Linked DNA regions of Homo sapiens: region 1 is linked to region 2. The links come from fine-mapping of genetic effects on gene expression. A gene starts in region 2. The other region holds a variant in brackets. All regions are shown on one strand. Distances are between the middles of the regions. Region 1 has its middle 69 kb from the start of LEF1. Region 2 holds the start of LEF1-AS1 (LEF1 antisense RNA 1).

Region 1 (5,374 bases), 70 kb after region 2:
GCAAGGCAAGAGGGTCCGTCTGGCTTCTCCAAGACACTAACCCTTGATGCCATGAACTGAGCATTGAGCCTTGCTGTTACATCCAATTGCTGTGCTGCTCCATGTTTCCTACATCTGTAATGAAATCCAGGGCCACCACCTGGCTCTTCCACATTTCCATAATTTTGTACACCACACTTTCTTTAACTTAAACTTCCTCCCCTTCCCCACAACCTGGCTGCTATTATTCCTTCAGCTTTTCGCTCAGATGCAGTCTCCCATGGGAAGCTGTCCTGGCTGACCTTCTAAGTCTTGGCTAGTACCTGTTTTTACATCAATTGGAGCAGGAGTCCCACTGTTTAGTTCCTATTTGTTTACTGATCTGTCTCATCCTTTACAGTATAGTTGTTTGAAGGCAGGCTTGCACCCAGCTGTGGCCTGATATACAGTCAATAAATACTTCCCAATAAATACTTCCTGAATCATTTAGGTAATGATCAAATGAGCAGGGATACCTCTTGTCTGAGAGAATCATGAAGTGGAAGAAGAGGTGTGAATATAGAGCTGATTGGAGAAGTCAGGACCGAAGGGGAAGTTGTACTTGCTCACAGACACCTGTTATCTCAGGGAAGGGGGAGGTTAGGCCACCTGCTGAGAGTGAGGGAAGCAGGGAGCTGGGAGGACCCTTGAGGAAAGTAGTAAAGGTTTGGAACAGCTTGTATGGAGAATGGAAATGGAGCAGATGAGAAACCCTTGAGGGCCCAGCTGAGATTGGAGCTCATAAATTTATAATGGAGCCCAGCAACATGAATATGCAATTTTCTCCAGAAAGCAGTCCTGAACAAGATGTAGGAAAAATAATGCTAATTGCTATTTATTCATGCCTGCTATATGCAAGGATCTATGCTACATGCTTCAGTTGCCTGTTCTATATTCTTTGCAAGAAGCCTGTGATGAAGGTGTCATTATCTCCCTCATTTGGATGAAGAAACTGAGGCTTATGGAGGTTAATCACTTAATATAAGTCACATAGCTGGCAAGTGACAGAAGCAGCTACAAACCACAGACTGACTCCAAGGGCCAGGACTTTGTTTGGGGCCATGCCATTCCACTGCAGCTTCTGTGGGTCCAGCTTGGTTGACCTGAGCTAGGGATGGTTATGGTGAAGGCAGTGAGATGACAAAGGAGGCCAGAAAGAAGCCTACTGGCTAGAGTGTTGATAGAGTGATTAACTACTAATAACTTTGGGCTCTAAGTGAGCTGGTGTCTGAACCCAGGTATGTGTGGAGACATCCAAGTGATGAGGAACTAAAGGTGTCAGTGCTATGAAAGGATAGGTTTATAAAGAGCAAAGGAAAAGAAGAGAATCACAGATAGGAAGATGTAGTTTGCATTTATGAGTTCAGAATGGCCCAATTCCAGGTGGTAATAAAGCTAAGATGTGCTCATGAGAATGGACGTGAACAAACCACAATAAAGGAGGGCATGGAACTCCGAGGTCCTTCTGTATTGTTTCTTGAAATGTTAGTGCCTGGTGTATTTTAGATGCTCAGTATTTACTGAATGAATAAATAAATAAAAGGGTAACCACAAATAGAAACTATAAAGTAGTGAGACTTCTTCAGTTATGTGATTTGTGAACATTTAGTGCTATTTTTATAATCTCATCTAACCCACTATCTAATAAAATAGATGAAGAGAGAAAAAAAGGTGGCCATCTAAATTGAAGACAAAGTGCTCCCTTGAAGTAATTATCTGATTGTGGAAGCCTGAGTTACAGAGACTCGAACATTTGGAAGCCTTTTTAATTGGAAGAGAAAACAAAGTTCAGTGAAAACAGAGTTACTGTTGTTATGGCCAAGCAGTGATAAAATTTAGGATGGCAGTCTTCTGTATACTGAGTTGTTTGTTCATATGCCGTATATGAGCTAAAACCTTTAGGGTCCTTCAGCAAAGATAATATGAATGTTCTATGTTTTCTGTGTGTTATATCAGGGACCCAGGCTCAGTCAACACGTTCATAGTTTGAAACCTTAATCAAGGCATGGAATATCATTTAAGCTAAGTCACGATTATCCCTCACAAGTGAACTATAAAACAGAATCTTGATTCATGAATTAGTTCATTGTTTTGCCCTGCTGATGTTTGTTAGATATAACATATATGCATGCCAAGTGAAGAGAGATGAAATAGCATGATGTAATTTAGTTGTGTTTCAAAGAGTAAAGCCTCCAGGGTATTGGTAAACATACAGCTAAATAGAGGCTCACAATACACTTCTGTGTTTTATGGTTTTGTCAAAATCAAAGGAAATGTATTTACTTTGGAACAAATAATTGTGGGAAATTTCTATAGTGTCCCTGTGGCTTGTATTTCATTGCAAGTAGAATTCCCTTTGGTAT[G/A]TGAATGACATTGCATAAGTAAGCTGTGCTGGACAAAGGATAAGATGTATTCCAGCTTTAATTATGGTGTAGAGGAGTTTTACCTTAGGCTTCTGACTTTACTTGCCAGAAAATAGCCATGGAAAGGTGCATTATTGTTCCATAGTTAACAATTAAGTTTCTTAACTGAATATACTCTTGGTGAAACATAAAAGTAAGCAGAATTTCTCAACTGTGTATTCTTAGATTATTGAAACTAAGAGATAGTTCTGGCTATCTGTACTTTTCTACTTTCATGATCTTACAGTAGAGGGGATAGCCTCCATGTAACTTGGCTGTCTTTCTCTTGTGTTTTTTAGGTACTGGCAAATAGCATTCAGCCCTATTTCCTGCTTAATTATATGATGGTGAATAGTCACTGTAATGAGCTCCTTCTACCTTTTTTTTTTTTTTTTTATGGAGTCTCACTCTGTCACCCAGGCTGGAGTGCAGTGGCGTGATCTCAGCTCACTGCAACCTCTGCCTCCTGGGTTCAAGCTATTCTCCTGCCTCAGCCTCCCAAGTAGCTGGGGCTGCAGGCAGCTGCCACCACACCTGGCTAATTTTTTTTTGTATTCTTAGTAGAGACTGGGTTTCACTTTGTTGGCCAGGCTGGTCTGAAACTCCTGACCTCGTGATCTGCCCATCTTGGCCTCCCAAAGTGCTGGGATTACAGCCATGAGCCACCGCGCCCTGCCAATGAGCTCCTTCTACTTAAAAATGTACCCATAGGCTGGGCACAGTGGCTCGTGCCTGTAATCCCAGCACCTTGGGGGGCCGAGGCAGGTGGATCACCTGAGGTCAGGAGTTCAAAACCAGCCTGACCAACATGGTGAAACCCCATCTCTAGCTGGGCATGGGACGCATGCCTATAATCCCAGCTACTCGGGAGGCTGAGGCAGGAGAATCACTTGAACCTGGGAGGCAGAGGTTGCAGTGAGCTGAGCTGGCGCCATTGTACTCCAGCCTGGGCAACAAGAGCAAAACTCTATCTCAAAAAAAAAAAAAAAAAAAGAAAAGAAAAAAGAAGAAAGAAAGTACCCATAGAAGGAGCACTCTAAAATATAAAATCTATGAACCAAGGATTATGAGTATTAACACTCTCCAAATCATACCTTCTTCTCACCTTTTTTTCTAAAATAATTATACATCAATGCTTTTGAAATTTGTTTAAAGTGACAGAAAGACTCACTCTGTAGATGCTTTCAGATATCAACCTACGTAGCATGAGGCATAGAGAAGAAGGCAAAAATAAAAAAGTCCTTAGTTGTCTAAAACATGGGGATACCAGGCAAACAGCCCACACCCTCAGTGTTCTGAAGGTTCAGTTGATTCTTATATTATGATTGAATGTCATTATAATAATTATAAAGCATCCTATATTGTGAAACTGGCAAGCATGGGGTTAATTGATGATGACACTAAGATAGATATGTCAAGGCAGGAGTAATGATACACTTTGCAAGACAAGAATGCATTAGAGGTAATTGTCAGCAGAATCCTAGTGAAAGTGAGTCACAGTAAAGGCTTGGATGGAACCAGCTACATGTACAAACCTCCCTAAACTCACTAAAACAGAAAATTAATATTGAATTTTATTCTTAGTTAGAAGGATGTGTATCTTGGTCCTTGTTTGCAAGGGCTAGAGATGATCAACGTATTATATCTTCACGTTAGATATGTTTTTCCAAATTTTAATTATTTATTTTCCTGGCTTAGTGGAACTATTCGTTAAATTAACTCATTACCATTTGTATTAGTCCATTTTCACACTGCTGATAAAGACGTACCCAAGACTGGGCAATTTACAGAAGAAAGAGGTTTATTGGACTTACAGTTCCACATGGCTGAGGAGGCCTCACAATCATGGTGGAAGGCAAGAAGAAGCAAGTCACATCTTACGAGGATGGCAACAGGCAAAGAGAGAGGAGAGAAACTCCTGTTTTTAAAACCATCCAGTCTCATGAGTCCCATTCACTATCACGAGAACAGCACAGGAAAGACCCACCCCCATGATTCAATCATCTTCCACTGAGTCCCTCCCACAACACATGGGAATAATGAGAGTTACAAGATGAGATTTGGGTGGGGACACAGAGCCAAACCATGTTACCATTCCTGGGAACTACCTTAACAAGTAAAAGAGTACTGTGTTACTCATTATAAATCAAGATAGTTATATAAATCATCATATATTGTCGTTATGCTCTAGGGTATTGGAGGGAAGAGGAAAAAGAGCCATATGATTTGTAATTTACATCCTGGAGTTTCTTCCTCTTTCAGAAAAATAATTAAGAACACTTTTTTCCTTTTAAAATCAACAACACAGCACTGTGAGAATTGGGTGTTGGTTAATTCTTGTAAGAATTCCACTGACAAGGCCTAACTCTGTTCTATTTCAACCTTGGTTTCAAGTGATCCTTCTAGTATCCTGTATTTTCCTCAGTGGTCATGCTAAAGCACTGTTACTAGACCACAAGGCTGGAAGCCAGATTGCAAAACCATGAGGCAGGAGTGGGTGGTCAGGAAGTAGAATTCAGCAGAGTAGATTTCTTTTAAGAAGTTGGCAGTGAAGAGAAGAAGAGAGAATGCATGATAGCTTAAGGAGTAGTATGATGAAGAGAGTGCTCTTCTAGGATAGGAAGGGAGGTTTGAGCTTGCTTATTGGCTGAGAGGGAAGACTCAGTGGAGAAGGAGAAAGGGAACAGTCCTGTGGACTGATAGCTGATAGGGATGCTCAAGGGGAATGGGATGGATAAGGTATGGAAAGCGGGAACCATTCTCTGTGCTGGGAAGGAAAGAAGAGAAATGGACAAAAATTTAAAGATATTTTGAGGAGAAACTGGGGAAGTTGAAAGAGCTATATCTTGACCTGAGGCAAGGTGGTAGGAGGATTTGAAGAAAGGGAATTATGTAGAATTGGCTTTGTAGGGAATGTGACTGAGAATTATTGAGTTAAAAAAACTGTTGAGTAG
Region 2 (5,374 bases):
CAACATGTATTTTTGAGTGATTATTATCCACCCGGGACCAAAAACGTATAAATAATAACAAAACCAATAAAAATATAGTTAAATTTGGGAATGATCCACATGCTGTTCTGACTGCTGTTTATTAAACCATATCAAGGCTCCTTGGATGCCTAATATTACAGGAGTAGGAGTTAATGGGGTTGATGGTTTCGATAGCCTCTTCAACCACTGTTCACTTCAATCAGATCTGATTAAAAGAAGGCTGAAATATCATTTTGCAACTGAAAATGGCATTTAAACATAAACAAGCCAACCACTCAGATGCGGTCTTAAGGCAACTGCCCTGAGCGCAGTTACAGCAGAAGCTCCACTCGAGCTTATAACCTACTATGGCTGGCTGAGTGCAGGCTTACAAAAGTAGAACGATTCTGTGGTTAAAGGGAGGAAAATTAGAGAGTCAGGTTATAGACATCTAAAAGGTAGCCCAGTTGATATCAGTTTTGGTAATCACCATCCACCCAGACAGCCTCAAACACGTGCAAATCAGTGGTATTACTCCTTCACCCTCAGGCCTCCTCATGCCCACTTAACACCCGAGTGCTCTCGGATTCGAACGCAGTGTCCTTCACCCGGACCAGAAAATTGTGGAGAATATGAAGTGGGTGGCAAAATTATTTATGGACTAAGGCAGGACTAGCAAAATGGGTAGAAAGAGAGGCTGCTCTACAAATAGGAGAGTTTGGCAAAAAGCCTGTGTTTTGGATGTTATTCGGTTCTCTGGACGTGTGTCCTCCCTTTGACCTCCTTTTCCCAGCACACAGTAGTCACAAATCTTTTACGCGGGGTTAGGTGCACCCTACCCCCGCCCCCAGCCCGCTCAAACTGGATTCAACGGGTAAAGAACACCATTCTGTTCTCTGAACGCAGGCCCCCAGCCTTTCAAAATTCGTACTCACCTCTGCCATTGGGATAGAGAAGGCAGATCTGAGGTGTTCTTAAACGCGCTGTTTAAAACCCAAAATGTCCCCGCCCTCAAAACCACACACTTTCTTTTTGGGGGTAGAAAGATGCCATTTAAGGAAAAAAAGGTATATCCTCCAAGTTTCTTTGGAGGGAAAAGGCGTTGGTTAAATCATTCGGGTGTCAGGACTTTTCTACCGGATTTCCTCCAGAGGGTTTCCCAGTTGTGGAACAAGGGTGACCAGTGGAGTGTCGGGTATCAGGGTCCATCCGCCCCCTAGACCAGCTCTGGACTAGGCTTCAAACAGCCCTCCAGCGCGGCCCTGCTCCGCGCTTTCTCTAGCCAGCACCCACGTGTCTCTATTTACTCTACTCAGGTTACCAGCTCTATCGCCCGCAGCGGGCCAGAAGACCCGATAAAGCGCCTTCCACCCTGCAGGACTAGTGCCCGGCTTCCGCTGCTTCTCCGCCTTTCTTCTGCGTAGATTTAAGGCCTGATCCGGTCCCAAACCCCAAATAAAAGTTGTGGGTTTGTTTCCAAGTGATGGCGGTTGGAGAAAACTAGAGTTGGGGGCGGTACAGCCAGGGTGTACCCTTGCGGTGGGTCGGCTCGGCGCACCCACAGCTCCCAGCTGCTAGCCCAGGCGCTGGGGCCGCAGGGACTGAACCCCGCACCGCCCCCGCAGCCCGGGTGCGCGCCCCATCGGCCGGCCTGCTCCCCGCGGCCCGGCTCACCGGTGGTAGGGACGGCCCCGCCTGCCCCAGCCCACGCCCGCCTCCCCTTCCTCCCGCCTGTGGCTCTGCTCGTCTCCACCTAAGCCTTTGGTGGTTTAACGCACTTTTGCAGAGACATCTACCAAGAGATAGCGTGTGCACTTTGTTTTCCGTCCCACGGAAGAATTTATCAGTAGCGTTATTCAGCCCTACTCGCTTTAAAGCACGGCACCCCTCAGCCCAACAAAAAGACCGAAGGCGAAACATTGTGGGTTCCTGCCCGCGAACCAACCGTTCAGCCACCGAACCCCCTAAACTGATCCATTTGGAATAAGTTACCCTGCCCCTCTACCTCCCATCCTACACACACACACACACACACACACACACACACACACACACACACTGCGGACCGGGGGCCCAGCTACGCACACACCCCAAAACAAACGAGGGATCTACTCGGGACCCTCAGCCGGGCGGCCGGGCGCCTTCGTTCCCTTCCTCCCTCTCTGAGTTTCCCAGGGACCCGCCACGCCTCTCGGAACTGGGGCAGCGGCCCGCTCACCTCGTGTCCGTTGCTGGCCGGGATGATTTCAGACTCGTTCACCAAGGAAGACTTGATGTCAGCTAAATCGCCTTCCTCTTCGGGATGACTGATCTCGGCGAAGATCTTTTCCTTCTGAGGATCGCCCTCGTCCTTGAAGGGGATCATCTCGTCCGTGGCGCAGAGTTCCGGGTCCCCCCCGCCGCCGCCACCTCCTCCGGAGAGTTGGGGCATCCCGGCGGCTCTGTAATCTCCGCTCCGCTGTGGGAGCACCCGCGCAACAGCAGGAAAGACAGAGGGGTAACTCAAGGGTGGGGGAGGAAAGGAGAGTTGGAAGGGTTCGTGCAGCAGGACAGCGGGCGGAAGCGGGGCGGGCGAGCGCGGGGCCGCCGGCCGGCAGCCGGAGCAGCTGCCGCGGCGCCCGAATCCCGGCGGCCGCCGCGCTTTCCCGCTTCGCGGAGACCGACGCAGGCGCCCGCCCCCGAGGCCGAAGGGCACTGGGCGGCGAGGGCTGCGGTAGCTGGCGACTCCGGGGGCGTCTGCGCGGCGCGCGCTAGACGAGGCTGCCCCGGCGGCCACCCCGCGACCCCGCGTCGCCGGGATTTGCGCGCGGAGAACGCCGGTTCTGGAGGGAGCACGCCTCCCCAAAGTGCAGAGGAGGGTCCGGCGGCGCGTCTCCGCGGAAACCCTCTCCACTGTAGTTACCCCGGATGCCGACTTAGTAGTTTGTTTTCCGAGAAAAGAGAGGGGATCTGGGCAGAAGGGCCCCGTTTGCCCCAAAAGAAGGTGCAAGGATCAGAAGATAACGAAACGTCCACTTCCTGAAGGGTGGGAAAAAAAGAAAAAGAAAAAGGAGCCACCCACGCTGGAGATGTCCGTTTTAGATCTTCTTATTTTCTTCCCTTTCGCTTCGGTTTTTCTTCTCGAGGCTCATTTAATCTGCTAGAGAAGGAGGAGGAGCAGAAGATGGGGGCCGAGGAGGAGGGGAAGAGAAAGAGAAGTTTGCCAAGAATAAAGTTTTTGCCGGCAAGCGCGGGGACTCCGCAGTGGAGGGCACTGCGGAGTCTCGGGGAGTCACAGCGGGGGCCTCGGGCCCAAATGCCTCTGCCCGGAGCTCGAGCCGACACACACACTCAGTCCGACCCCTCTTTGTTCCCGGCTCGAGTTTCTCAGCCTGGCTCGCCGGCTCGCCGCTCTGCACGCCTCCGCCGGCCAGCTCTGTCAAAGCAAAGAGCTGCGCCCCTTGAGTTCGCCCGGCCGAGGGGAGGGGACGCCCCGAGCTTGGCCGCGTGCGAGGCTCCGGGCGCGTCCTGGTTCCTCGGCCCGAGAGCGCGCAGCCCGGGTCCCTCCTCCGCGCCCTGCCCCGCAGGTGAGCGGCTGCGCCTCCCCACTGCTTCTCCTCCTCCCGCGCCTCGCCGGCGCTGAAAAGCTACCCACTTGCGTCGCTTCTCCTCCCTCTCCCCTCCCCCGCCTCTAGCTCTCCTTGGCTGCCCGCTGGAGGGGAGGCGGGGGGTGAGGGGGAGTCGGCGAGAAGGAGGTGGTGATTGAGGGCTTTTTTTTCTTTTTCTTTTCCCAGATCCTGTAGGACGAGTCTTGGTTTTGGGGTGTGTGAGTGTGGTGTGTGCGCGCGCGCCTGGAGGGAAGGATCAGGCAACTTGGCGAGAGAAGGAAGGACCGGGCGCTGCTTATAACCCACCGAAAGGCACGCTTTGCCCGCGTGAAACTGACAAGAAACATTGCCGCAGTGGCTTGACTTCATCATCTAAGTATCTATTTACTTGGCCCCCACCCACCCACTCCTTTTCCTCTGCCAGTCTCTCCCCTACCTCCTTGACGCCTCCCACTCTCCCTCCCTGGCTCTGGCAGAGGGAGGAAGATGAAAGAGAAAGCCGCTGCCGCTGTGATGGACACCACATTGATAGATGCTCTGACAGTGGGGAGAGGCGGGAATCTGGGACTGAGAAAAAAAGGAAAAGGGGAAAATATAACAGACATTGCTCAACTATTAAGAGAGAACAGAAGGACAAGGAAAAGAGAGTTGTAGCTTTCCCGAATATAATATCACACACACGCTCTTTGGAGACAAGGGAACACACTAGTGAAAATAAAATCTCTAGGCTTACGGAGAAAAAATATGACGAGGAAGAAGGAACTGAAGACTAGATTTTAATTATTGCTTTTTAAACAATATATCTTTCATTCTGTTCTCACCACGGGATGTACGGAGAGTTGTGCTAGGTCTCCAGTGGGTTTTCAGAGACACACACCGCAGTGTGTGGGAACCTCATCGAGAATGAAAAGATAATCCAAGAAGGGGGAAGAGAAGGCAAAAGGACTCAGGAGAGCAAAGCCAGAAGAGGGAGGGAGGACGGGGTAGTCCCTGGCACCTTGGACTGCGAACTGAAAGGGACCCTTGAAGACACCAATCCGAATACAACCTCAAAAATTCCCCAGTCTCCACTGTCTCTTTGATGAATTTTGTACAAAGACAGGAGTTTTCAGGAGATACTTTGTGAAAGTTACAGCAGAAGGGAAGCTGAAGTTTGAAAACACATTACATTTTGTCCCTTGGTTCTCAAACCCCCTCAGTTAAAAATCTAGGCAAAATTATTATATCCAATACAGTAACCATCTGTAAAACTTCAGAACAGTAAACAAAGGACATAAAGAAATGTATCTTCATCTCCCTTAAATCGAAAACAAGCAAAACACTACAGAATCAGATTTTGCTCCATTATATAGGAATTGTCTGGCAAAGATCCCTCTTTTTTTCCTAAAGGTGAAATTTCAGGCTGCTGAACATTGAATGGGTAAAGATTTTTACAATGCTGTATCTAAGTGAGCACTAATGACTTCACCTACTAATAACGACTACTTCTTGGGAATAAGAATTTACTAGGAAGCAATTTTTAAAACTTTACAAAGGATCCAATTGGTCCCTACAACATGGCCAGTAGTCACATGTAAATTCTATCTGGAAGATTGGGGTGAAATTAAGGGGTTGGTGAAGGAATCCAGGAAAATTAAAACATTAAATCCATTTTTAATAGCTGACAATGCTATGCCTCAAGAGAAGAAAAAGAGTATATTCTGCTACAGTGTGTGAGAAACCCAATTTTTGTTTTTGGATGATGGTGGTATGTCACTTCCCTTAAAGTTAGGCACCAGTGTGAGTAG

What was found. PIP is the estimated chance that this variant, and not a neighbour inherited with it, causes the effect.
Region 1: its variant is the best candidate, but not a certain one, in a credible set for the expression of LEF1-AS1 in whole blood (TOPMed, PIP 0.79).

The regions. Positions count from the first base shown.
Region 1 is chr4:108,235,684-108,241,057 of GRCh38, forward strand. No RefSeq gene overlaps it. Among named protein-coding and RNA genes, the nearest start is that of LEF1, 69 kb to the left of the region's middle. The variant G/A (reference allele first, on the strand shown) is at 2,382.
Region 2 is chr4:108,165,337-108,170,710 of GRCh38, forward strand. LEF1-AS1 (LEF1 antisense RNA 1) reads left to right here and starts at 2,189. Exons shown (of 3, transcript NR_029374.1): 1 at 2,189-2,497. It overlaps LEF1 (lymphoid enhancer binding factor 1), which reads right to left and starts at 3,596. Exons shown (of 12, transcript NM_016269.5): 1 at 2,219-3,596. The coding sequence starts at 2,431. LOC124900752 reads left to right here and starts at 2,603. Exons shown (of 2, transcript XM_047416528.1): 1 at 2,603-3,566; 2 at 3,774-5,374. The coding sequence starts at 3,164. The coding sequence ends at 4,360. RefSeq lists silencers at 1,550-1,789, 3,546-3,595 and enhancers at 1,667-2,168, 3,196-3,285, 5,356-5,374.